Linked DNA regions of Homo sapiens. The protein of the gene in region 2 purifies or fractionates together with the protein of the main gene of each other region. This does not show direct contact. Each region holds a gene or a part of one and is shown on either strand. Other genes may lie near its edges. The genes, in order: AHCTF1, AFG3L2, TBX2, TBX3, SUPV3L1 and ZFHX4.

Evidence for each region.
Region 1: the proteins of AFG3L2 (region 2) and AHCTF1 purify together in Homo sapiens (affinity purification with mass spectrometry; one large-scale study listed by BioGRID and IntAct). This does not show direct contact.
Region 3: the proteins of AFG3L2 (region 2) and TBX2 purify together in Homo sapiens (affinity purification with mass spectrometry; one large-scale study listed by BioGRID and IntAct). This does not show direct contact.
Region 4: the proteins of AFG3L2 (region 2) and TBX3 purify together in Homo sapiens (affinity purification with mass spectrometry; one large-scale study listed by BioGRID and IntAct). This does not show direct contact.
Region 5: the proteins of AFG3L2 (region 2) and SUPV3L1 purify together in Homo sapiens (affinity purification with mass spectrometry; one large-scale study listed by BioGRID and IntAct). This does not show direct contact.
Region 6: the proteins of AFG3L2 (region 2) and ZFHX4 purify together in Homo sapiens (affinity purification with mass spectrometry; one large-scale study listed by BioGRID and IntAct). This does not show direct contact.

The regions. Positions count from the first base shown.
Region 1 is NC_000001.11:246,844,949-246,848,448, forward strand, and holds part of AHCTF1 (protein ELYS), read right to left. Parts: intron 1-3,500. UniProt on the Homo sapiens protein: Required for the assembly of a functional nuclear pore complex (NPC) on the surface of chromosomes as nuclei form at the end of mitosis. May initiate NPC assembly by binding to chromatin and recruiting the Nup107-160 subcomplex of the NPC.
Region 2 is NC_000018.10:12,370,728-12,374,227, forward strand, and holds part of AFG3L2 (mitochondrial inner membrane m-AAA protease component AFG3L2), read right to left. Parts: intron 965-3,500; coding exon 865-964; intron 200-864; coding exon 122-199; intron 1-121. UniProt on the Homo sapiens protein: Catalytic component of the m-AAA protease, a protease that plays a key role in proteostasis of inner mitochondrial membrane proteins, and which is essential for axonal and neuron development.
Region 3 is NC_000017.11:61,398,593-61,402,642, forward strand, and holds the start of TBX2 (T-box transcription factor TBX2), read left to right. Parts: upstream 1-1,250; 5' UTR 1,251-1,584; coding exon 1,585-1,979; intron 1,980-3,091; coding exon 3,092-3,359; intron 3,360-4,050. UniProt on the Homo sapiens protein: Transcription factor which acts as a transcriptional repressor. May also function as a transcriptional activator.
Region 4 is NC_000012.12:114,674,176-114,677,675, reverse strand, and holds part of TBX3 (T-box transcription factor TBX3), read left to right. Parts: intron 1-19; coding exon 20-96; intron 97-1,205; coding exon 1,206-1,363; intron 1,364-2,840; coding exon 2,841-3,500.
Region 5 is NC_000010.11:69,197,234-69,200,733, reverse strand, and holds part of SUPV3L1 (ATP-dependent RNA helicase SUPV3L1, mitochondrial), read right to left. Parts: intron 2,363-3,500; coding exon 2,182-2,362; intron 1,631-2,181; coding exon 1,537-1,630; intron 455-1,536; coding exon 235-454; intron 1-234. UniProt on the Homo sapiens protein: Major helicase player in mitochondrial RNA metabolism. Component of the mitochondrial degradosome (mtEXO) complex, that degrades 3' overhang double-stranded RNA with a 3'-to-5' directionality in an ATP-dependent manner.
Region 6 is NC_000008.11:76,684,247-76,687,746, reverse strand, and holds part of ZFHX4 (zinc finger homeobox protein 4), read right to left. Parts: intron 1-3,500. UniProt on the Homo sapiens protein: May play a role in neural and muscle differentiation. May be involved in transcriptional regulation.

The DNA.
Region 1 (3,500 bases), on a different chromosome or scaffold from region 2:
AAACCTGTCTGTGCATCAGTTTCTATAAAATAGGGTTAATAGTAGCATCTATCTCAAAGTTGTTCTGAGGATGAAAGAAGCAGAACAATGTGTGGCAGGGTAGGTGGTAAGTGCTCTACAGATGTTTGCATTTGTTATTTCAAGAATATCATTTACAAACCCTTGAAATAAAATCACAGTTCATGTTACTTCAGCTACTGGGATAGTCAAGAGTTCTATCAAATTCTGCTTTTCGAGCATGATTCTTTAAAAAAATGTTTTTTGTGGGTACACAGTAGGTGTATATATAAAAATGTTTTTTGTGGGTACACAGTAGGTGTATATATAAAAATGTTTTCTGTGGGTACACAGTAGGTGTATATATAAAAATGTTTTTTGTGGGTACACAGTAGGTGTATATATAAGCATATGATTCTTAAAAAAAAGAAAAATAGAGTTGATATCAGATATCAGAAATATATAATCTCTGCTCCCAGCTTGTAAATGGCAGAAATGGCAATGGCTAGGTCTACTGGTGGTCTCTCTCTTGGCTTCAAGAAACAGATGAACAAAAGTATTTCTACGAAAATTATACATTCTATAACTCTCTTCTAGGCTACCTGAAAAAACGATTTATTTCACTTTTCGTAATCTTCACCTAAGCTTTCCTACTCCATTTCAAATATATAAGGAAATACAAAAATATACTATCACATGCAAAAATAGCCTCCACCATTTTTTCCATGTGCTTCTATTATAGCACAGATGAGACTTTCTTGAGTGTATGTCAATTCTTTACCCATCTCTTGTTTTGAGGATTAAGGAGTTCAAAAGGCCTAGGTTCAAACCCAACTGTGTCCTAGCAAATGACTCTGGAAATTCAAAGAGAGCTCTGATTTGCAGCATTTGCTGATTTCTAAGGTATAAATGTGCCTCCTGTGGCCAATGCAAACCATGGCTGGGTTACAAGTTCTTGGATATTTAACAATTGGCTCTTACCAGCCAGTAGTAGCAGTAGTAGCTCTAGAACAACACATCTTACTTATTCCCTGGGTGATGTGAGTGCACAGTCTCAATGAACTTCAGTTTCCTCAATGAGGACAGAAGGAAGTAAAAGTACCTACACTTTACTGGGTTGAAGTGGGAATCAAACGATATATGAATGTCATGTATCTAGTATGGCCTTAGGTATATAGCAGGCCCTTCTTAATATCTGCTGTATGAAATGTGAAGTTTCATATTCATTTAGTAAAACACAAAATTCTAAGATAATTTCTTCGCTATGTTTCAATAAAATAAAGGACCACCTCTAGCCTTCCAATCATATAGTATACCTATACCCAGTCTTCTCGGCACCTGCATCCCTATGTAAAAACGAAGTTTAGAATATAAATAGGCACAAGGGACAGAAAGTATGGTAACAGTATAAAGGGCAGAGGAAGACAGGAAGCTATGTCCTAGAGTGGTCATTGCTTTGTTAAAGGAGTGAATACTCATAAGAACCCCTGTAAGGTATGCACTACCACATTCATTCTAGGAGGAGGAAACAAGGCTCATAAAGGTTAAATGATTTTCTGCCCAGCTAGTAAGTGGCAGAAATGAGAGATCTCAATCCCAAGTTTCTTATCCCTTCCAATCCCATCATCTCATTCTAGCAGGTGCCTATTTTTAATATTAAAAAATCTGAAAGCAATTCAAATACCCAACAGAAGAGGGTTTAAACAATCTGTGGCACATTTGTGAGATGAAATGCCAATATGAAAAAAAAAGAAATATTACGTTTAAGATTTTGAAATATATATACATATACATATATATATTTTTTGGGGGGATGGGGGTGGGGAGGTGACAGGATCTCAATCTGTCACCTGGGCTGGAGCACAGTGGTGTGATGGCTCACTGCAACCTCAACCTCCCGGGCTCAAGCCATCCTCACACCTCAGCCTCCCAAGTAGCTGGGACTACAGGTGCAGCCACCACATGCCCAAATCATTAAAAATTTTTCTTTTGTAGAGATGGGGTCCCACTAAGTTGCCCAGGCTGGTTGGATTTTGAAGAATATTTAAGATTAACTGAAGGCTGGGCACAGTGGCTCATGCCTATAATCCCAGCACTTTGGGAGGCCAAGGCGGGTGGATTATCTGAGGTCAGGCGTTTGAGACTAGCTTGGCCAACATGGCGAAACCCTGTCTCTACTAAAAATACAAAAAAATGACCCAGGCGTGGTGGCAAGCACCTGTAATCCCAGCTACTGGGGAGGCTGAGGCAGGAGAATTGTTTGAACTCAGGAGGCGGAGGTTGCAGTGAGCCAAGATCACACCATTGCACTCCAGCCTGGGTAACAACAGCCAAACTCCATCTCAAAAAAAAAAAACAAACAAAAAAAAAACTGAAAATGCTCATGACATAAGTAGGGGGACAAAAGCAGAATATATGCACGTACATAAACTGCAGGTTTTTAAATACCAACCATACATATGTATCTGGAACGATATACAGGAAAACGTGAATGGTGATTCTTTCGATGGCTGGATTATATACTTCTATTTTAGAGTTTTCAGTAAGTAGGCATGTATTGTTTTTGTTTTGAGACGTGGTCTTGCTCTGTTGCCCAGGCTGGAGTGCAGGGGCACACGATCATGGCTCACTGCAGCCTCAAACTCTCAGGCTCAAGTGATCCTCCTGCCTCAGCCTCCCAAGTAGCTGGGACCACAAGCCTATGCCACCAGGTCTGGCTAATTTTTGTACTTTTTGTAGAGATGGGGTTTTTTTGGCCATGTTGTTGCAGGTATTTTTAGTTTAACAGAAAAAAGTTAAAATTAGTAGGTACAGAAATGAAAAATAGGTAAAGATGACAAAAATCAGAATTACTGAGATGTTTGCTAAGCTCTAACAAAATAACTCTCACTTTTGGTGGTTACTATATTCCTCCAGGTCCTGAGGAGTGTATAAGTTATGTGAATGACTTCCTGCCACTCCCTGCCAATAAAATGTTTTTCATTTTAACTTTTTAATAAAACCTTAATAAAATGAACTTAAAAAAAGTTGGCTAAAATATCACACATTCTGTCATTTCATTCTCCTCCATGCAAAACATAGGTCTAACCACACTTTTCTAACACTGTGAAGAAATTAAGTTATACTACCAAAATCGAAGATCCAATTAAAAATTTTCTGAGTGACGAGGGGAGAGGAGGATCCCCTATAGCTACAAATCATTTTTAGGACAAATGATCAATTGTTATGGGGAGAGTCATTCTCCTGGGCTCAAACTGTATCAGTACAACAAGTCATCTACTTTATTTATTATTATTATTATTTGGCCCCCCGGGCTGGAATACAGTGGCACAATCTTGGATCACTGCAAGCTCTGCCTCCCAGGTTCACACCATTCTCCTGCCTCAGTCTCCCGAGTAGCTGGGACTACAGGCGCCCGCCACCACGCCCGGATAATTTCTTTGTATTTTTTTTAGTAGTGTTAGCCAGGATGGTCTCGATCTCCTGATCTCGTGATCCACCCG
Region 2 (3,500 bases):
GGATTACAGGCGTGAGACACTGTGCCCGGCCTGATAACTCTTTTCTTTGTTCAGTGGAAACTACCACCATTATACATGAGGGGAAAACACAAAATTCAAATATAATATTGTCAAAAGGTACCTTTTTTCTCTCCCATAACTTCTTTAGGTTCACTAGCTTTTTTTCCATTTTTTCCATTAGGAAAGTATTTTTCAAATCCTGTTAGAAAAAGAAAAAAAATACTTATCTTCAAACTAAAATTCATCAGGTTTGTGTTCATTTTGTTTTCAAAGCAGCTGATGCATCACTGAAAAGCACAAGCTGGCCAGGCGCAATGGCTCATGCCTGTAATCCCAGCACTTTGGGAGGCTGAGGTGGGCAGATCACCTGAGGTCAGGAGTTCGAGACCAGCCTGCCCAACATGGCGAAACTCCGACTCTACTAAAAGTACAAAAAATTGGCTGGGTGTGGTGGCAGGTGCCTGTAATCCCAGCTACTCGGGAGGCTGAGGCAGGAGAATCGCTTGAACCCAGAAGGCGGAGGTTGCAGTACGCCAAGATCGCACTAGTGCACTCCAACCTGGGCGACAAGAGCCAAACTCAGTCTCCAAAAAAAAAAAAAAAAGCACAAGCTAAAAGCATAACATTTCTTGTGTACAAGTACATCAAAGTCTAAATAATATAGTTCACAACCCAGAAGTGTTAAAGGAAAAAGCCTCCTTTTTGCATATCAATTTCATTATCTACAAATGTGTTACATTTGAAGATGACATATCTTCATCGCTGTAATCAGACATAAGTTGGAGGCAGGGGAATGGGTTACAGAAGGAGACAAAAGACCCAACCTAAGAATGTAGAACACTACAGCCACACCTAAGCATTTACCTTTTGGGGGTCGAGAACAGAATCTTTGATAAGCAGCAATTATATCTGTCAAAAGAGAATTTCTGCTGGCCCTTGCTTGAGTTGTAACAAATCGGTAAAGCTGCAACAAGACATAAAAATAAAACCATAGTTATATCAAGATAAAAAACTTAAAAGAGCTTCATTTCCTGGTCATAAAGTAGATGAAAGGTCTCTCTCTTCCACAGGTGGTTATGAAGTAACACAGAATGACTCCCTTAGTGAGGACTAGGATTACCTAGCACTAGGCCACTGATTCCAGCAAAAGAACCAGGAGACACACATTATTATCCAGAAAACAAGAATATTTCAAAATCAGACATAATGTAGAATTGCAATCCAATTATAATTATGTGACAACACATTCACTTTGATGATGTTTGTTTAATTTGTAGCATTCAAAAGACAAACCCTGGCCAGGCGCAGTGGCTCACACCTGTAATCCCAGTACATTGGGAGGCCGAGGTGGGTGCATCACGAGGTCAGGAGTTCAAGACCAGCCTGGCCAAGATGGTGAAACCCCGTCTCTACTAAAAATACAAAAATTAGCCAGGCACAGTGGCAGGTGCCTGTAATCCTAGCTACTCGGGAGGCTGAGGCAGGAGTACTGCTTGAACCCAGGCAGCAGAAGTTGCAGTGAGCCGAGATCACGCCACTGCACTCCAGCCTGGGCGATGGAGTGAGACTCCGTCTCAAAAAAATAAAAATAAAATAATAGTTATAAAAATTACAAAACCAAATAAAACCACCTCACATCCACTATAATCAAAAAGACAGACAAGTATGGGTGAGGATGTGAGAAACTGGAGCCCTGTACACTGTGCTGGTGAGAATGTAAAATGGTGTAGCCACTCTGGAAAACAGTTTGACAGAGCTCCAAAATGGTACCACATGACTCTATGGGTCACCATATGACCCAGCAATGCCATCCCTACCCAAGGAAGCTGAAAACACATGTCCACGAAAAATATGCACACAAATGTTCACAGAAGCCTTATTCATAACAGTCAAAAAGTAGGAACAAGCCAAACGTTCACCACCTGATGATGAACAGATAAATAAAATGTGGTATACCCATACAAGAGAATACCAGTCACTCAAACAAAGGAATGAAGTACTGACACGTGGATGAACTCTGAAAACATCATATTAAGTGAAAGAAGGCAGACACAAAAGGTCACATATTATGATTCCATTTATACGAAATGTCTAGAATAGGCAAATCCATAGAGAGATAGACACATTAGTAGTTGCCTAGAGTTGGGGGAATGATTACAGAGAAATGCGAAATGATTACTAATGGTCGCAGGGCTTCTTTCTGGAGTGCTGAAAATGTTCTGGAATTGGAGACAGTGATGATGGTTGCATAACTTTATGAATATGTTAAAAACCAATGAACTGTACATTTAAGATGAACAATGGTTTGTAAATTAAAATGTCAATAAAAAACAAATAAAACAGAATGAGATGATTTAACTTCAAATAAATACAGAATTCCACACAGCAAAACAGGACAGGAACACCAACACTGTTTTTGTCTGAGTGCAATACTGGCCTGGGAGACTTTGGAGCTTATGTTGTGTTACACCCTGCCCAACCACAGGAACACTTGGCCTATGAAATAACCACTGATAACAGATAAGAATGCAACATAAGAGTTTTTTTCCAGTGCCAAATCCATTAAGGGTGTAGATTAAAATGAAATGTTATTCAAGCTAGACAAGTCAACAACTCCAGGCCAGGTGCTGTCAAGCAGTGGGGTGTCCGAAGGGGAATCAGAACCAGTTCCCACCCCTAAGAAGCACAGAAACATAGGGAAGAAAATCATGGGACAAATCAGTTACACTATGGCATAACAATGTAACCAAACAAAAGCTCTGAGTACAGGGAACAGGAGTGGTGCAGAGGTAATATGAAGGGGTCTTTATATTGCCACGTCTTAGTCTTAGTCCTTTCTGTTCCGCTATAACAGAGTGCCTGAAGCTGGGTAATTTACAAAGAAAGGTTTATTTAGCTCACAGTTCTGCAAGAGGGGAAGTATGAGAAACAGGGTGCTGGGCTTATGGTGAGGGTCACATGCTAGGTCAAATTATGGCAGGAGAAGGTGCTACATCAAAACACGGTGGGAGAAGGTCAATGGCAAAGCAGCCACATACCATGAGGGAGGAACTTCTACTTTATAACAACCTAAGGTCTCTGAAATTAAGCCAGTCCCAATACAGCTCACAGAACTCACTACCTCTAGAATGGCACCAAGACACTCATGAGAGCTCCACCCCCATGGCCCAAACACCTCCCACTGGGCCCCACCTCTCAATACCACCACGATGGGGAACAAATTTCAACATGAGTTTTGGTGAGGCCAAACTCAAACCATAGTACCATATAAAGCAAGTCTTTATATCACCATAAAGTTTAGTACAGAACAGGGCACTGTATGCGCTCCATAAATATTGACAGAAAAGCCCTTTTTAGGCTCTATTTTCAAATTGTGTTGACATGGAATATCCCTAGCAATAATCCGTGACTGAATTTAACACTGAGGTTGTGTTCTATGAAGAAATCATCAATGAAACTTCTTCTCCTCTGCATATGTAATCCAAGATCTGCATGTCTAG
Region 3 (4,050 bases), on a different chromosome or scaffold from region 2:
TTCACTCTCCCCGTGCACACCTTGAGTTATAGCTCTCGCTGCGCACAGAGGGCACCACACGGGGCCCGACACACACACACACACACACACACACACACACACACACACACACACCATCACTTCATGGGGGGGAAACTGAGGCTGCCGGAAGACAGAAAACGAAGACTGATCACAGAAGAGGGGGCTTCAATCACAGGTGCTCGCAGACACCCCAACTCCCTCACGCGTTACTCAGCACTCCTTAACTTAGGAGACGTGCGCTTCCGAGAGATGAGAAGAAACTAAAAAAGTGGTTGGCAGGGCGAAGAGAGGAAGCCGGTATTTCGGAAGAAGGAGACTTTCGTCTCCGGTACCGGATAGGGCGAAAATTCGTTGGGTCGCGGGTGGAGAATCCGGGGTCCGCCCGCGCGGTGCCGCCCTGTGCTCAGCGAAAGGTGCGCTCACCTTCCTGGCCCCGAGGATCCGCTCCTCCCGGCCGCTGGAAAGCTCAGGGCGGGGCCCGGGCCTGCGGAGAACTCCAGGTTCCTTCCGAGTCTTCCGGTGAAGGCGGGCGCGGGTAGGGGGTCCCCGCGTTTCCCCAGCGCAAGGCCGCGTCCCGCTCCCGCCCGCGCCGGCCCCAGCAGGGCTCGGCCATGGCTCCACTCACCAGCTCCCGCCACCTGGGATCCGCTCCCGGACCTCGGCCGCCCGAGCCTCCCGACTCGCCCGCCCACCGGCCTCGCTTTCCAGTGCCTGCTGTCTCTTTCCGGGGCGCAGGGACCCCCAGGCGGCGCCACGACCCGGAGCTGGGTCGGAGGCCAGGCTGGGGCTCGGGCCAGAGCGGCCGGGCCTCTGGGCGCGGGAGAAGGAGGGCGCCCCCTCTCCGCTCGGGGTCGTGTCAATGCTTTGCACTTGGGGCCGGCGTGCGGCTGCGGGTCCTTCCCCAAGGCCCCGGGACCCGGGCTCCCCTCGCCTCAGGCCCTTTCGGCGGGTCAGGTCGGCCCTCCGCGCTCTCCAGTCCGGCGCAGGCAGCCGCAGGCGCGGGCGGGCGGTGGGGGCCGGGGCAGGAGGAGGGGTCTCGGGGCCCGGCGGCCCGTCATTGGTTAATATTTTATTCTGTTGACATGTTTTCTTACTGCTGAGGCTTCCGACACCTTCTCCCAGGCCCCCCCTCCCGGCCGGAGCTTGGCCTGAGCTGTCAAAACCCCGCCCCCGGAGACCCACAATTGGTCCAAAAAGCGTAAAATCAGCAATCAAGGGGGGCCTGGCTCGTTAGCGCAGGGGATCCGAGCTGGGCAGGACATGTGAGATAGTCACAGTTTTCCAGAGATCACGACAAGATCTAACCAGTCGCGCGTGGTCCCCGGCGCCGGAGCGGGCCAGCTCAGCCCGGCCCAGCCCGGCCCCGCGCAGAGCCCCCGCCGCCCCCGCGCACAGAGCCGGGTGCCCCTTGCGGTGCGCCGGACGGGAAGCCCCGAGGAGCAGCTGCTGCGCCCGCCACCCGGGTCGTCCGTCCACCGCGCGCGCCGCCGCCCGGGCCGGGGGTCCGAGCCGCGCGCCCCCGGCCCCGGCCCCGGCCCCCGGGCGCCTGGGCCGGATGTCCCGATGAGAGAGCCGGCGCTGGCGGCCAGCGCCATGGCTTACCACCCGTTCCACGCGCCACGGCCCGCCGACTTCCCCATGTCCGCCTTTCTGGCGGCGGCGCAGCCCTCCTTCTTCCCGGCACTCGCGCTGCCGCCCGGCGCGCTGGCCAAGCCGCTGCCCGACCCGGGCCTGGCGGGGGCGGCGGCCGCGGCGGCGGCGGCGGCAGCAGCGGCCGAGGCGGGGCTGCACGTCTCGGCACTGGGCCCGCACCCGCCCGCCGCGCATCTGCGCTCCCTCAAGAGCCTGGAGCCCGAGGACGAGGTGGAGGACGACCCCAAGGTGACGCTGGAGGCCAAGGAGCTGTGGGACCAGTTCCACAAGCTAGGCACGGAGATGGTCATCACCAAGTCCGGGAGGTAGGGCTGCCGGCCGGCTGGAAGGCGCGCGGGCGGGCGGGCGGGCTGGGGCACGGGACTGCACGGATCAGAGCAGAGCTGGGGACTCCCGGCTCCCGGCTCCCGGCTCCAGGTTCTGGCCCTGACGCCACGCTTCGCTCCCACGGACAACCAAGTTGACTTTTCTCGTTTGGCACCGGAGCGATTTTTTTTTAAAACAAAAACGCTAAAATCCTCCGAATGAAATAAAACGAAAACATACTGCTAAAGAATAGCCCCAACCGTTCTGAGTCCCAGCGCAGAGGAGGCCCCGCGGCTTGGCCCTGGCGGTCTCCTCCGCCCCGCGCTCTCGCTCTTCTGCGTCCGGGTCCGTCTCCGAGCTCGGGGGAAATTCAGCCTCTCTCAGACTCTGCTCCGACCCCGAAGCCCCTAGTGGGACCTGGGCCCAGCTAACCCCACGCTGGTTGCTCGGTTCCTGGCAGCGAGCCCCGGGTCAGCCGAGCCCTCCGCCTCACCGGGCTGGGAGCCCTTTCTCCACCGCGGGCATCCGAGCCCTGGACGCATCCGCCGCCCCAGGCCTTAAAGCCTGAAGAAAGCCACAGCCCCGGCCCCTCCACCCTTCGACTCAGCCACCGAGAATCCAGGCCTCGGGTTCACCCTCTTCCCCCGAACTGCACGGCCAGGATGTCTTATCAGGCTCTGTAGCCCAGTTCCCAATACAAACACCCTCCAGATTTATTTCTGGGAGCTTCCGTCCCAAGTGGGTATTTCCCCTGAACGAATTTCGGGGAGATTAAGGAGAAGCGAGAATATTTCTAGAGGGCCTAGACTTCTCTCCTGGGCATCAGCTTTCATCTCAGATCAGGGAGAAAGAGGGTCCCCAGATCTGAGCACAAGGCCTAAAGGAGGCTGTTTAGGAGAGGGTCTGACAGGCAGAAATGGGATCTCCTGGGAGCAACAACCACAGGTGGGGTCGTCCGGGCAGTGATGAGAGGGCAGAGCAGCCGACCACAGGGGAAACAGCCAGGCGGCAGCGGTGTGCGCAACGAGGAGGGATAAATAAAGGAGGAGTGGGGTCCTGGAACCTAGAACAGCCGGTTCCAATGGGATCTCCTCCCTTCCCTCCCTCCCAGGCGGATGTTCCCCCCCTTCAAGGTGCGAGTCAGCGGCCTGGACAAGAAGGCCAAGTATATCCTGCTGATGGACATTGTAGCCGCTGACGATTGCCGCTATAAGTTCCACAACTCGCGCTGGATGGTGGCGGGCAAGGCCGACCCTGAGATGCCCAAACGCATGTACATCCACCCAGACAGCCCAGCCACGGGGGAGCAGTGGATGGCTAAGCCTGTGGCCTTCCACAAGCTGAAGCTGACCAACAACATCTCTGACAAGCACGGCTTCGTGAGTGTTGGGGCAGGGTGGGGACGGTGCAGGAGCTTGTTGACCCAGCACTGCAGCTGAGCAGGAGAGCAGGGCGGCAGGATCTCCCAGGGGGAAGCGCTGGGCAAACCCCCAGAGTGCCCCTGCCCGGGTCACTGCCCTGTGGTCTACGTGGGCTGGGCCTGGGCCTGGGCCCCAGCGCTCTCCTTTGCAAGCCTGGGAAATGGTGGGGTCAGTGGCTGGCAGCTCACAATCTCAGTTCCTCAGGCCGTGGAGGGTCCCTTGTACCGTCAATAGGGAGGCAGGTGCTGCCAGGACTGGGTCTGCAGTGCTGGACCACGGAGGTCACCCTGCTCTTGGCCTGTAGGTGCCGAGCTTGGAAGACCTGCCCATGACCTCAACTTGTCCATCACCCTTCTGCCAAGACCCGCGTCCCTGGCCCTCCCCCAAGACTAGGGGATTTAAAAGTTAAACCACCCTCCCCACCCACCCCCCCAGCCTCCCTAAGACCTTTCCCTCCTCCCACAGGCAGATGCCCAACTAGGAGGAGAGGGTTTGGGGGTTCTCTCCATTTATGCCTGAGCAAGGCCCCAGCGAACGGGGGTGGTGTTTCATAGGGTAAAAGGAACTGCCCATTCTGAGGTAGGGCAGTTGGTGAGCCCCCGAAGGTTGGAATCTCCTCTTTGTGGGGTTAGGGGGTTTACCAGTGCCA
Region 4 (3,500 bases), on a different chromosome or scaffold from region 2:
CTTGTGTCTCTTCCAATAGATAACCCAGTTAAAAATAGACAACAACCCTTTTGCAAAAGGTTTCCGGGACACTGGAAATGGCCGAAGAGAAAAAAGGTGAGTTGAAACAATTATTTATTAGATAGTTTAGAAAAATCCCTTTTTTTAGGATCCAACTCTGAAGTGTTAGAAGTGAGATGCAGGCACTTATCCTAAGAGCGGGTGGAAATCATTCACTTTCCCCACTGCTACATGCTTGCCGCTATCAGTATACCCAGGACAAGTACTTTTCCTACCTCCTTACCTTTAAGGAAATTAACTAGGCTACACCATACTTATCTCTGGAAGAGAAGCATCAGGGATAATAGATTATACAGGGATGCCTATTAATTCCTAATTAATTTAAGTTCATCCTAGGCAGGTCCCAGAAAGAACCATGCCATTGAGAAAATACTTGGGAATTTTTGCAATCCTGTCTTCCAAATACCATCAGACAGAGCTGGGGACTTCGGAAAGATGTATGGCTCTCTCCCTCCTTCGTGGGGACATGTATCATTTTGCATTACGTAGACAGCTGGAGAGTATATGAAAGAGGGTCTCCCCTCCCCCACCCCCTTTCAAAGAATTTCTAAAATCCAGAAAATCACCCCCAAATTTTTAACCTATCCCCTTGGGGCGGGCATTAAAAAATAATTGCTAACAGCTAAATATATTTTTATTCCAATTAATTTGTTAGTAAAACGATTACAGTAAAGTGCAGCATGAAATAACCACTTCCTCCCAATCTTAGCCACCATCCAAAATTTGGGTATGCTGGGGACAGACAGCGTTGTGTTTGCAGGATTGGACACCCGGTTCTCCCTATATAAGGCTGGCAGTCCAGCTGTCTCTGACTAGATCCAGCCTCTTCTCCTGCTTTTAAATAAAATTTCACAGCCCAAGCAAATGCCTTTTCCTAATGAAACCCCATCTTGAATAAATGCAACTGAAGCCTCCTTCCTTTCTCCCTAACCCTCTGCCACACTCTTCAGCCCAGTTAGAGGGTCAAGGACAAAGCTTGGGTCTATGTGGCTGCCCTGGGGCAAGCAGATTTCAGTGAATTAGCGTTGTCCCTGGGCAGCAGGCAGGGTGTGAGGTATGTGTGTGCCGCTTTGGAAAGGGTAAGGGAAACAAAGAGGGGAAATGTATGTTACATTCTGTAACCTGGGTGTGGGCTTCTGCCACAGAAAACAGCTCACCCTGCAGTCCATGAGGGTGTTTGATGAAAGACACAAAAAGGAGAATGGGACCTCTGATGAGTCCTCCAGTGAACAAGCAGCTTTCAACTGCTTCGCCCAGGCTTCTTCTCCAGCCGCCTCCACTGTAGGGACATCGAACCTCAAAGGTAAACCATGTCACCTTTGTGATCACTGGACTCCAGTCCCTCGTGGCCTGGAAGAGTTGAAGGGGGATGGGGCACCAACCAGGGCACTTGCCCTTTAAAAGCTAGAAGCCTTCTAAACATCCTTAAACAGAAGCCAGAGTTCAAAAAGGGCTATCAGGTGTGTCTCCCCTTCCCCGCTAAGGCAGTAGAAGGAGAGCACAGAGGCCTTTCTCCCAGATCCTTATTTGGCTGGTGGGGAGGGGAGGTGGGTGTCTGTTTGCATACTACCTCTTGGCAAGCAGCTTTGAAAACTTGCTTGAAGCGCTTCTCTCTTTTCTCTCTGTCTCTGTTTCTTTCTCCTCCCATTCTCTCCAACCAACAGAGGCTCCAACTGCTGACTTTTCACTGTCTTTGAACTCTAGGTTACAATGTGTTGGACTGGGTGGGGGGGAAGCAAGGGACTCTGCCACCTGGAACCGAGAAGGTGGCCTAGAAAACATCCAGCTATAAAGCAACAATTGACCTGGGAGAGGAGGTGGAGCACTGGGGATCTGCGGTGGGGGTAGAGCTGGGGGAGGTGGGTGAGGAGTGGACAAGATGGCTCAAATCCCCCCTCAGTTACCTGTGTTTAAAGAGCAAGCAGTATTTATTTGGAAAGACACACACACACACACACACACACACACACACACACACACACTCTCAACGGGAAGAAACCTGTTTTTTAGTGAAATAAAATGCAAGTCCTTTATGTCTTCAATCCATTTAAGCTTTAAACATAAAATAGGATCCCTTTTTCTTTTCTTCTGGTGGAACACCCACAGAGGGTGTGGTAAAAGCGAAAAAAGAATCTATGATCGTCCCCGGGCTGTGAGCCATCTGTCCGACACTCATCTCTCTCTGCAGGGACTGGGGCAAATACAAACGGTTCAACTGAGTACTGGTGTTGAAGGACAGGTGTCCGTTCTGCCATTATCAATTCAGATGTCAGGGTTCTTGCCAAACAAATCCTTCCAGAGTAATTCACAAATTTGTGGAAGGTGCTGCTCTCTGTCATTCACTGATTTTTTGATAGTAATTAGAATATGTTCCAGCTGTGAGTTTTAATGTTACTTTTTACTTTTAAAAAGTTAATTTGCAATCGAATGGGGAGATGCATGTGAAATCTGCCACTGTAGGAACTCAAAAAAAGAAGTAAAATTCATTAAAATAAGAAGAGCTACTGATTAGGGGATTGTCCATCTAAGGGAAAGTTTAAACTCTGGGTAAATACTTTAAATTCATAATCGCTTATTGAATTTTCCAGCAATGTTGTTGGGCACGATTATCCCCATTTTGCAGATGACAACACTGAGGTGCAGAGAGGCTAAGGGGCTTTCCCCGGGATTACACAGCCACTAAGCCACGAGCTGGGATTCCAACTTGGGAACTGGAGTTCCGTTGGCTCATACTGGAGATAACGCCCTTCTGCCTTGGTTTTTTCCTTCGCCTGTGGTAGATTTATGTCCCAGCGAGGGTGAGAGCGACGCCGAGGCCGAGAGCAAAGAGGAGCATGGCCCCGAGGCCTGCGACGCGGCCAAGATCTCCACCACCACGTCGGAGGAGCCCTGCCGTGACAAGGGCAGCCCCGCGGTCAAGGCTCACCTTTTCGCTGCTGAGCGGCCCCGGGACAGCGGGCGGCTGGACAAAGCGTCGCCCGACTCACGCCATAGCCCCGCCACCATCTCGTCCAGCACTCGCGGCCTGGGCGCGGAGGAGCGCAGGAGCCCGGTTCGCGAGGGCACAGCGCCGGCCAAGGTGGAAGAGGCGCGCGCGCTCCCGGGCAAGGAGGCCTTCGCGCCGCTCACGGTGCAGACGGACGCGGCCGCCGCGCACCTGGCCCAGGGCCCCCTGCCTGGCCTCGGCTTCGCCCCGGGCCTGGCGGGCCAACAGTTCTTCAACGGGCACCCGCTCTTCCTGCACCCCAGCCAGTTTGCCATGGGGGGCGCCTTCTCCAGCATGGCGGCCGCTGGCATGGGTCCCCTCCTGGCCACGGTTTCTGGGGCCTCCACCGGTGTCTCGGGCCTGGATTCCACGGCCATGGCCTCTGCCGCTGCGGCGCAGGGACTGTCCGGGGCGTCCGCGGCCACCCTGCCCTTCCACCTCCAGCAGCACGTCC
Region 5 (3,500 bases), on a different chromosome or scaffold from region 2:
ACTAAACTTTGTCAATCTGGACCTTCACTTGCATACCATTCTCTGATCAAAGAACTCTGTGGCTCTCCAAAGCAATAAAGTAGGGCTTTTTTTAATGCAGTTTTCATGGCACAAAATTTTCTTTCACTTATGTCTGTATCCAGAAATGTGTCTGAGGTGAGAGTCTGGATGGTGGGTGAGGGAAAGAATGACTCTCCTCCACAGAGAAGCAGTAGTTAACATGTTACCTCTTACCCTTATAGGATCCACAGGCCTCTTCAAAATTTCCTTTAATAAACTGAGATCTTCATGATTCATTGTTGTAACCTCTCCTTCTTTAAACCGTGAGCTGAATCTGCCAGCTCTGCCAGCAATCTGCAGGGCTTGAGAGGTTGTGATTGGTTCTAGTTCTCTCTCTCCCTTTTCATTGATACTGGGCTTTATAAGGGAGTAAAAAATAATTCTCCTTATGCTCCTGAAACAGAAATAAAAGTGATCCTGCAGACTGTATGAAAAACCCTCCAATACTTGGGTCATTGCATAATGCTCACTCCAATACTAGCTTAGGTCCTCTTGCAACCTTGACTGCCACTTACAAAATTAAGGAAAGTCTGGCACAGTGGCTCACACCCATAATCCCAGCACTTTGGGAGGCTGAGGCAGGAGGATTGTTTTGAGGCCAGGAGTTCAAAACCAGCCTGGGCAACATAGCAAGACCCAAGTCTCTACAAAAAATTAAAAACATCAGCTAGGTTCAGTGGTGTGTGCCTGTTGCTCTAGTACTCGGGGGGCTGAGGCACAAAGACCGCTTGAGCCCAGGAGTTTGAAGCTGCGGTGAGCCATGATCACACCACTGTACTCCGGCGTGGGGCACAGAGTGAGACTCTGTCTCAGAAATAAATAAATACATAAATAAATAATATTTAGGCTTAACATTGTTATCATTTAGAGATAATAACTAGCCCCATGTGCATAATAGGCACTCGGACACCTGACTGAGAAACTGAAAGTAAAGTGACGTAGTACAATAGGTTAGCAGTAGTGGTGGGCAGCATTCAAACGTCCTAGTGTGGGCCGAGTGTAGTGGCTCATGCCTGTAATCCTAGCACTTTGGGAGGCTGAGGTGGGAAGATCACTGGAGGCCAGGAGTTAGAGACTAGCTTGGGCAACAGGGTAAGACCTTGTCACTACCCAAAAAAAAAGAAAATAACCAGGCTTTGTGGTGTGCACCTGTGGTCCCAGCTACTCTGGAGGCTGAGGCAGGAGGATCACTTGGGCCCAGGAGTTCAAGACTGCACTGAGCTACAATTTGATCACTGCACTCCAGCGTGGGTAAAAGAGCAAGACCCTGTCCCTAAGAAAAGTCCTGGCACTATTTAATATTTTCTTTTTATTTCCCTCAATAGGTGTAGGCAAGACAAACCTCAAATCTAGCCTATAATATTTATTCTCCCAAATCATAGCGTTTGGTCATTAATGCCAATTAGAAAACTGAAAAACAAAAAAACCACCATTTAACTCACCAAATATTCATCTTATTAAAAACAAATTACTTACAAATTAAGTCCCATGCCAATTGCATCTGTAGCAACCAAGATTTTGCATGGGTCATTGGGATCATTAAACTTTTTTGCTTGAGCAAGTTTGGTCCCTAAAACAAGAACAATTTATGTTAAATCAGTGTTCTCAGTCTTTTATTACATCAAGCTAAGTACATCTTGGAAACCCTCACCTCCTGTTCTTCCCATTTTTAATGATAAAACCTTTACTGTTTCAAACTTTATTTCTTTATATCCTCAAAGAGCCACTTATCCTTTACATCCATTCCTTCAAATACTCCGTCATATAGCAACACAATCCCCCACCACACTAGCCTTATTCCTGAGGACACAGATTTCAGGACTACAACTTAAAAGGACATGGTCAAGACCAGATTTCAATGACATTTCTGTAAGAAAATAATAAACTCAACATTTAAGATACAGTCTAATAATAGCAGCAACTAACAAGAACTATAATTAAAATACTTCTATTTCCACTAAGATGAAATAGAAAATTATTTATTTTATATGACGTTTAACAAATTACCAATACATCAAGCAGCTTAATTCAATATTGTTTACCATTTTTTTATATATATCTCAACATAAATTGCAAAGATAGGAGATTTCATATCTTGTCACGAGGAAAGTCAATAATTACCAGGTGGGAGACTGCCATATATAACAGCTGATTCTAATCCCCGAATTTCAATCTGCCGACTCACAGAATAAATATCATTCTTGCTAAAACAGACAATGCAGTCCCCAGGCCGAAGGTTATCTAAAGATTCTAGTGCATGGTCCAGCACAGAAATGGGGGTAAGCCTCTTATAGTCTCGAACCTACAATAAAGACATGAAATGGCAAAATGACACACCCAACTCAACTTCTTGTGACTAGTAATTAAGTGAAAAGATTGTAATGCAGTTAAGAGTAGCTAAAAACTGATAAGTACCAATGTTTTTCAAAAGAAAACACAGAAAAACATTTATTTTGATATTATAAGTGTTACCATCACTTCTCATTGGCATCTCTAAATTAATAAGATGAAACAGAGTGTTTCACCTGTTTTCAAAGCTTTTTCTCATATATTTCATTTTCACGGCAATGTGTTAAGTTCAGAAAGGTTATTAACTGCTATTTCCATTTTATAAAATAGTAAAACTGAGCCCAATAAAAAATTAATGTCTGAGGCACATTTTGCAAGTCTAACCTTCTGTGACTTGTCTAAAGAATGCAAAGCTAAGAATGGCAAAACACAGAATGGACTCCAAAATTTCTTCCACTATATTCCACTATCTCTCCTTGAAAACTGAGCACAAAACTAAAATAACAGGCTAATTCAAAACTATTTCCTTGGCTTATGCTTATAATCCCAGCACTTTGGGAGGCCAAGGTGGGAGAATTGCTTGAGCACTGGAGTTCGAGACCAGCCTTGGTAACACAGTGAGATGCCCTCTGCTCAAAAAATAAAAAATTAGATGGGCATGGTGGCAAACACCTGTAGTCCCAGCTATTTGGGAGGCTGAAGTGGGAGGATCACTTGAGTCCAGGAGGCTGAGACTGCAGTGAGTTGTGATTGCACCACAGCACTCCAGCCTGGGTAACAGAGTGAGACCTTGTCTCAAAAAATAATAATAATAATAATAATTCATTTTACTATAGAACTCTGGTAAAGAAAAAGAGAAGCAGGATTAAAAGGAAACCAGTTACTTCCAACTCTAAGAATTTCAAAAAGGAATATAAACTGTGTCTGGCAATTAGATGTGTATCAAAGGCCCCAATATCTGACATACAACACTTTGAAAACGACAAACTTGCTGGGTCTCCAACTTCTAAGAGTACTGATTTATTTAATTCGAAGAGATCTACTCAAGCCCCACAAGGTTTTGTCAAGAAGTGAAGAATTTCCTGTACTCTTGGAAGACTTAGGGTGTGATGACCACTCTGTCAGAACTTCAGATCATGAGGTTCAATCAA
Region 6 (3,500 bases), on a different chromosome or scaffold from region 2:
TATTCCAATAACAGAATCTCTTTTCTTTTCCTATCTTTTTGCTTTAGGAAACCAGAGATTATTAGTAGAGGCATTCTTAGAACAAGAATCCATTATTTTAAATATGATTATGTTAACCAATGGGTGGAAAAGGGAGAATAAGAAGAAGAAAAAGTCCTTCAGTTACTGCAGAAACTCTTTTCTGTGACAGAAGTGACCTTCCTTTTACAGATGCCCAAAAAGAATGAGACTCACTCTGGTCTATTAATCAGAAACAAATTATGAAAGAATGTAGCTGGACTGGTTGACACTATCCCGTCTTGGGAGACTCAGTAACAGCCTAGTAACAATGTCCTCTTCATGGGTAATGAACAGCCATGACAAATGGGGCAGAGAAACTATTTATTTGCATATGCAAATTCTCACACAAGGGAAACATGTACAAACAAGTGTCATTGTAAGGTGGATTAGGCAAACAACGCTTTCTTTTTAGGACATTCTGCAGCCCAGAACATTAGTCAGCACAATTAAACCAGTCTCCATGGAGACTAATGAAATTTCACCACGGTATGAGTTAAATTAGATAGCTAGTTATGTGTTTCCACAATCCAACTTGAAATCCATTATTGTTTCAGAACAATACTGCAATTGTGCCTAGCTGATCTTTGCCAGCTCAACAAGCTCCTAAGTTGACAATTTGCATATGTTAATATAATTAAGCACTAATTACATGAAACTTGTACATATTCACATGCACTTTCCCTGGGCGCTTCTCAGTTTGAACCTTGGCCAAGTCTTTAACCCTTAGAGTGGTCTTAGAAGGGGGGGAAACCCTCTCCCTGTGGGTACAGCCCTTAGGCAGTCACAGAAAGGCTCCTCATTTATAAACACAAAGCTTAACCTGGCTTCTCATATTTCTAGCAACAATGACAGAACATATTTTGTGAGAGTGCTAGAGACCAGGGATAAGGAAAATGAAGAGAGGGAGATGGATTAGTCTTTAAAGACTCATAACGAGTATCTTCTCAAAGGAAGGCAGGAACATTCATTTCAAGAAAATGTTAAGAAAGAATTTGTTCTCATTGACATTGTCGAACCTTGGGAGATGAACATGGTTTGACAACAGCAAAAATAGCAAGTAGGAAAGGGAAAAGGAGTCAGCAGCACCTAATGAGCTTTACATAAATATATGCAGAGTCAATTAAGCAATATTAATTACTATGACAGCAGTTAATTGAATATAATTAGATATTTTAAGCCACTGAATAAAGCATAGTTAAGATTAATTTTATTGAGATTAATTGTAAATAAGGATAGATTAACGCTGTGTTTTGACAGGCATAAAAAGTAGTTCTGCAAATTAAGCAGAAGCGTGGCCACCAGTCCAAAAATCATATATTATTTTAATGTCACACCTCAGAATCATCTCCTCAATAAACATGACTTTTCAAACCCAAATAGACAGGAATCTTGAAGAAAAACAAACAGCTTGCAGAGATTAAAGAGCCTTTTGTCCTTTTTCATGTGCATTTCTTTTAACAGACTAAATTAAGCGAGTCTGGTGTACGTTTTTTAGGAAGGAACATTTCACACTGAATGGAAAAAATGTTCTATCACATATGAAATTCGTGCAGCTGTGCGGAACTTGGTCCAGAGGGTTTAAGACCATAAAACACCACCAAATGATAGACAGTAGGCCTTCCCAAGATTATGTGATAAAGTCACAATCTTTTATTTTGACCTCTCTCCAAATTTCTGCTCTGTATTCTTTCCAGTCAAGTCACATATTTTGTTTCATAATTTTCTTTCTCTAAGAGGATAAAAAGAAACGTTGCACCTACTAAGTGCTAGAAACAAAATGTAAAAGGAATTGAAGAAGGCCTCATTTAACATAGATCAGCTAAGTCATTCAGCCACAAAATGCAATGATAGCTATAACAACAATGTATGCAAATGACACCTCTTGATTATTACTCTCCTAAACAATGGTTGCTGAAAATATTTCTTAGGAAAATATTGCTAATTGAAAACTCCTCTGCCCCAATACTTTCACACCAAGCTAATTCATGCATACTCTTTAAGAAAATTAACACAGTCCTCAAGAAAGCTGAACAAATCACTAATAAGAAAGAAGCTTCAATTGATTTTGAAATAAATCAATAGGTGATTAACATAATATTTTTAAAGCAGCAGAATGTACATATATATTACATAAACGTATATATTATATTTTCAATATCTTTTAGTTCTTAATCGAACACGGGCTTTACACTATTGAGCCTGGGTCTACACTGCCTCACAACTTCTTTAGGATGTCTTTAGTCTTTATAACGAAAATCCTAAAACGGTCTATGAAACAAGACTACGACAAGCCATTCTGCAGTGAAAGATTTTAAATCATCCAGCCTCTTCTAATAGACTTGAGACTTATTGAGGTAGAAACCATAAAAAATGAAGGAGGGAAATTTAATCCCTGAAATATTGATTTGCACATTAATATCATATAGGCAGAGGGCAATTTGGCTTCGTGGAAATGACACATTGTCGACCCTTGGTGAAGTCAGAGCCAATCTAACTGCTGAACATGTCTGAATCTCAAGAGTTATTAAGGGCTTCCCTTCTTGCCTTTATGACTTTTCTTCAGCCTACCAATGCAATCTTAAATGTATTATCTTTAAGAAATAATTGTAAAACCTCAGGGGTTTTCCAGTTAATGGAGGGGAGGCCAAACCACATCAGATTCTGAAATGCAACATTAAACCCTTGCAATCAACAAAACCACCTCAATTCTCATCCATCCAGTGCAGGATCTAATATTGTTATTAGAGATAATCAAATTTCATTGTGTAAATTTAGGCTCATGGTCAGAATGGAAGCAGTAAATTCTGCAATATTAAACAGTGATTTTCTCAGCCTCCTTTATGTTTTCCTTTGCTCATGAAGAATCTTTTAAAATAATCCAACTAGCTCAAAATTAATGAACAGATTTGGGCTCATCTGCTAAAAACTGCAAAAGATTACAAAAGCACTGAACATGTTTGCCTCATTTTTAACTTTAAGTGGCAACTTTCACTTCATAGAACCAGAGTCCACTATCCCTGTCTAACCCCACAGTTGGTGCTATTGCTTTGACTTACACAGCTGGTTTACCTGACCTTTCTTTGTTCCTTGGGTACATTTCACTTTTCAGATTTATGATATTTCCCCCATATTTCATTGACCCTATCTTCATTGCCATAAACATGAAAACACCTAAATATGAGTTTACTTTTTTAAAAATCCAAAATCAACCAGCAACTGAATAAAAACACAGTGGTGCTCTCCCCAGTTTATGCCATAAATATTAAAACCATTCAAAAAAAGAACTGTATAAACCTTATGATCCCCACACTGAAGCCAGGTGCAAGAGGTTAAAACAGCTGGCTAGCCATCTTTTATTTTTGTGTGCCTTCCTGCTGACTGAAACCACAAACCTTGAAAACTATCAAATATTCCCTTAAGGATTTTTTTTTTTAAGATGA